Linked DNA regions of Homo sapiens: region 1 is linked to region 2. The links come from fine-mapping of genetic effects on gene expression. A gene starts in region 2. The other region holds a variant in brackets. All regions are shown on one strand. Distances are between the middles of the regions.

The links. PIP is the estimated chance that this variant, and not a neighbour inherited with it, causes the effect.
Region 1: its variant is the best candidate, but not a certain one, in a credible set for the expression of PTTG2 in whole blood (INTERVAL, PIP 0.68).

The regions. Positions count from the first base shown.
Region 1 is chr4:37,885,170-37,888,201 of GRCh38, reverse strand. No RefSeq gene overlaps it. Among named protein-coding and RNA genes, the nearest start is that of TBC1D1, 4.4 kb to the left of the region's middle. The variant C/AC (reference allele first, on the strand shown) is at 1,510.
Region 2 is chr4:37,959,062-37,961,561 of GRCh38, reverse strand. It overlaps PTTG2 (pituitary tumor-transforming 2), which reads right to left and starts at 1,164. Exons shown (of 1, transcript NM_006607.3): 1 at 434-1,164. The coding sequence starts at 1,127. The coding sequence ends at 552. All of the region lies in intron 2 of TBC1D1 (TBC1 domain family member 1), which reads right to left.

The sequences.
Region 1 (3,032 bases), 74 kb after region 2:
GTTGAAATTCTTTTTAAAATCTATACAGCATTATCTTAGAAATTAGGGGACAGCTTGCTATCAATCTATTTGGCCTTAGGTTTTCTAGCAGTTGTAGAACAAATAGTAAAGGGGACTTTGAAGCAGATGGTGATACCTGGTATGGCAGGATGAAGACTGTCAAATGTGGTTGGGGAGATCCATACTGGCCCAGTGCAGAGTGCAGAAGTAAGAGCTCACCACTCAGCTCTTACCTGCAGGTGCCATTGCTCTAGGAGGGAAGTAGCTCCTTCCCCTTGATATGTGGCCACGTGACTCCCAGGAGAGCTGGTACACACCATGGTAGAAGCGTGGGCCAATGGGGCCTTGGTGATGGCAACAGAGAGCTCCCTCAAGGCCCAGGAAGGTGTTCTGTTGGTCCCTCTTTAAGTCACCGATAACAAAAGCAAGCAGAGAATAGGGCCAAATGCTCCAATGATTCTGCTTCAGCTTCTGATTCTTCTGACGGAGTATGACCCAGGAACACAAGGAGTGTGGAGCTCTTCACCACCATGGGCATTTAGCTGACATCAGCTATGGACCCATTGGCTCAGCGAGTGAAAACCCTGATGCGAAGGCACCGACCATCATGGCTGCTGCACTTTTCCTGTCTGGACAACTTCCGCACCTCCAGCTCTTCCCAAAATCCTGCCATGGATCATTCTTTTAGGGCTTCTCCCATAGACTCTTTCCTAATTTAGCTATTTGCAGCATAATTAGTTATTCATTGCCAAAAGCCAGGAACATTAATATCAGCTTTAAGATGGCTGCAGAGCTCTAGAAAATTGTGAACCATCGATGCTATTAAATCACATGAAAAGCTCAGAGCCTGAAAGAAAACAGAGGCCACTTTACTTTTAAAAAGTTAAGGGAACCATGGGAACCATATATACATCTAGAATTAAAATCTTTCGTTGATGTAGAAAGAAGACCTTTAACAAAATTAATCATCATTAAATCCATCAGTTAGGTATTTAAATGCTCATATTAGTTAGGAATCCAAACTATTGCTATTATATATTTTTACTTAAATTCAAAATGTGCATAATAAGGTAGTGGGTCCATTTCCAAAAAATGGCATCAATAAAGGCAAAAAATAAGACTATACTGGCTAGAACCCTAGGATAGTAAGGTGGTTCACTGGGTATGCTTGTTCCCATTGATTGATAGTGACTTTCTGGAGCCCTGAGTGGACGAGGCTTGTAAGGCAAGTCCATGCTCAGTGGGAAAGGGTGCAAGATTGAGAAGCAGCACCTGCCTCAAGCATGGGAGGAGGCAGCATTGCAACACCAGCGCCAGGTAATTTGCCAACCCTGTCAATCCAAGGCATAACAGTTAGATCTAAAGAGTTTGTGAAGGCTGGGGTGGTGGCTTATCCTATAATCCCAGCACTTTGGGAGGTTGAGGTGGGCTGATCACTTGAGCCCAGGAGTTGGAGATGAGCCTAGGCAACATGACAAAACCTCTATAAAAAAATACAAAAAAAAAAAA[C/AC]TTAGCTGGGCGTGGTGTTGCACACCTGTAGTTCAAGCTACCCAGGAGGCTGAGGTGGGAGGATGGTTTGAGCCCTGGAGGTTGAGGCTGCAGCAAGCTGTGATGACACCACCACACTCCAATCTGGGTGTTGGAGTGAGAAACTGTCTCTAAATAATAATAATAATAACATAGAGTCTGTTAAGTTATGCCCAAATATCTTGTTTTCTTTCTTTTCTTTCTTTCTTTTTCTCTTTCTCTTTCTCTTTCTTTGTCTTCCTCTTTCTTTTTCCTTCCTTCCTTCCTAGCTTTCTTCCTAATTCTTTCTTTCTTTCCTTTGGTTTTGTTTTCTGAGACAGGGTCTGGCTCTGTTGCCCACGCTGGGGTGCCGTGGTGCCTTCGTGGCTCACTGCAGCCTCGACCTCTTGGGCTCAAGCTATCCTCTGCTCAGTGTTCTGAGTAGCTGGGACTACAGGCGCACACCACCACACCCAGCTAATTTTTAAGTGTTTTGTAGACACAGGATTTCGCTGTGTTGCCTAGACTGGTCTCAAACTCCTAAACTCAAGCAATCCACCCACATCGGCCTCCCAGAGCGCTGGGATTACAGACGTGAGCCACTGCGCCCAGTTCCCAAATATCTTAATTAACTATAAGAAATATTCTTCATGACAAGAAAATGAAAATCAAAGTCAGAGACTATATTACATCCAATTGTCTGCAATACTAGATCCCTGAAATTGCTTTCCGAAAGGCATAAGATTAATAAAATATGATGCAAAAAATTAAAATGAGCAGATAGCCAACATAGATTTTAGAATTTCAGCAATTGAAATAAACAAAAATTTTACTGCACGAAGAACTCACGCTTACAATGCAAGAGACAACGGTAAATCAATGCAGTGAGAGAATGGGTGGACTGTATACTTAAGCCCCAGAGTAGGCTTCTGTGAAGTATCTAATCTCCTTTTATGGACAAAGCAGATAAAACTCTGGGCACTGGTTCCACTTCCTTTTCCAGCAACCTCTCCTATTTGTCATTGCTCTACACAAGCAACTGCTCCACGCAGCTCTCTGACGATGTCCAGCCTTTACTTGGGGTTCTCACTTTCCACCCGAGCTGGTTCCGTGGGTCTGGGCACCAAGTACAAAGTTTGGCAAATGTTAGATGGCACGTCATTTTTAAATTATGATATCTAAATTTGTCTAAGGTCAATGAGAATTTTTTTGTAAATTGTCAGAGCTAGTTATGGATGTCGATGATTTTACTCAGACTGGGTAAGCTGACTAAGCTCTCTACCCTGCAGCAACCCCACTTCATTTTACCCCAAATGCCATTGGTGGTACCTAATGTGTAATCTCACCTAGAATGCAGGAGCTGCTAACTGGTTTCCCTGATTCGGCCCTCACCACCCTGCAGTCTATTCTTAACATAGCAGCCACTTGAATCTGCTAAAATATCATTTGGGCCATGTCACTGCTTGGCTTGGAATCCTCCCATGGCTTTCCAGATTCCCTGGAGTAAAAGTCAAAGTCCTTATAAT
Region 2 (2,500 bases):
TACAGAATTCAAGGCATGGACATAAAAGTGCTTTAAGTTGTAAGACATTAGCAGAATAAGATACGGGATTTCATGAACATTATTTAGCCATATAGACATTTTAAGATAATCAGTGTTAGTCCTAGCTGCAAATATGTTCCCTATTTTTTTTTAGCATTCCACAAAATTCTCATTCTTTTAATTATCTCCCTTTGCTGCTAGGACCTCCTTAAGGCTTTCATCTGGTTCACACTAGGCTGGGAAGAAAAGATGTAGAAGTTCTTGGCCTGGCCCTGGCCTTTTCTCCTTTATCCTTTGCTATTTCCTGTCTCCTGTTTCTCTACAGAAGTAAATCATGTTGACATATCCCCAAAGAGTACGGGCTGTAGTATGGAAGAAATATAGAAACAAGGGACAGCTGAGACAGATGCACATAAAGAGGAATATGACCCACTTTATATTTATGTATTTATTATGTTGTTAAACAAATAATGCTTTATTAATACAAGTACACACAAACTCCAAAGCACTAAGAAATTTAAATATCTATGTCATAGCAAACAGCTGGCAATTCAACATCCAGGGTCGACAGAATGCTTGAAGGAGACTGCAAACAGATTGCATTCCCATGGTGGAGAGGGCATTTTCACAGGTGAAGGGGGGCCCAGCTGAAACAGCTTTTCAAGCTCTCCCTCCTCATCAAGGATCATGAGAGGCACTCCACTCAAGGGGAGGTGTGCAATCTGGCGCTCTTCAGGCAGGTCAAAACTCTCAAAGTCTAGAAGATTGAAGGGAAAGAATTTTTCTATTTCTGGATAGGCGTCATCTGAGGCAGGAACAGAACTTTTTGTTTTAACAGTCTTCTCGGTCATCTTTTTGGCAGAAAAGCTTGGCTGTTTTTGTTTTCTGGGTCCATTGGTCTTTACTGACTTTTCTGTAGCTCTGTTGACAGTGCCCAAAGCCTTTCTGGTAGCTTTAGGTAAGGCTGATGGAGCATCGTATGTTTTGCCAAAACGTCGTGTTAAAACTTGAGATATCCCATCTAATGCTTTGATTGAAGGTCTAGACTCCAGCTTCAGCACATCCTTGGCAGCCACACGGGTGCCTGGTTCTCCAATTTCCTTATCAACGTAGATCAGAGTAGCCATTCTGGATTATTGCCGCTCTCAACAGCCACATTCATCTAAGACCGTGGTCCCACTTTATATTTAGATAGAATGTTAACTATAGTGGAAATTGGTGTAATATCTAATTTTTGTGCCTAGCACATCATCTGAGAGTTAGCATGAACTCATATAAAGAGCACAGGCCTGAGGTCAGACAAACCTGGGTAGGAATCTCGGGAGTACCACTTTCTGTTAGCTGTAAGATTTGGGCAAGTTAGCTAACATCCAAGCCCTATTTCCACATCCATAAAATGGAGGTAAAACCCAACTCTTACACATTGTTAAATGGTCAAAAACCACTTAGGTAAAGGGCAGAGCAACCAATAAATAAATAGTTTCTGCCGTTATTGCATTTTCTAATTTATAATGTACTTTTGCATACATTATTTCACTTCTTACTAACCTTTAATAAATGCAAGTCTTCCATTTTTTACTAAAGCAGCACCCCTGAAGTTTCTCTAAACTGCAAAATGCTCAAATGTTTCATCCCGAGTTATCCCTTTTGCCAACTCTGATCTACTGGTGGCAGACAATCCAGCATGCAGTGGTGGGGAGAGCCGAGAGGCCCTCTCTGAGCAACGTGACTACTAATGGTGCTTGCTTGGGCAGGAATACTGGACTATGGCAATGACTATATACCTTTGCCAACCCAACCCCAATCTAGTCCAGGCTATTGATTCACAGCAGCAAAGGGTCACTTCTGTTTCTAAGGCCTAGAGATAAGTTGAGGGCACTTTTGCAGTGAGCCATTTCAATTCAATGATAAATATTCTTGTTGTCTAATTCATTCTATGAATCTTTGACCCAGTGACATATGTGCGTACGTATTTGAGCCCATATGCAAAAATATACAGTTGAGTCTTGAACAATACAGGATTGAGTCGCATGGATCCACTTGTTCTCAGATTTTCTTCTGCGGCTGCCACCTCTGAGACTGCAAGACCAACCCCTCCTCTTCCTCCTCCTCCTCAGCCTATTCAACGTGAAGACAATGAGGGTGAAGACCTGTATGATGATCTATTTCTACTTAATGAATAATGCAATATGTTCTCTTCCTTATGATTTTTCTTAATAACATTTTCTTCAGCTTACTTTATTGTGAGAATACAGGATATAGTGCATAAAACATACGAAATATATGTTAGTCGACTGTGTTATTGGTGAGGTCAACGGAAGACTATCGGTTAAGCTTTTTGGGAGTCAAAGGTTATAGGTGGATTTTCGACTATGCAGGTGATTGGCGCCCCTAACCCTCACATTGTTCAAGGGTCAACTGTGCCTGTTTATTTGCATAAGGCCACCTCAAATACAAAGGGCCATTCAAAGGTATCATTAGAAGTCTTGCTCTTAACCTG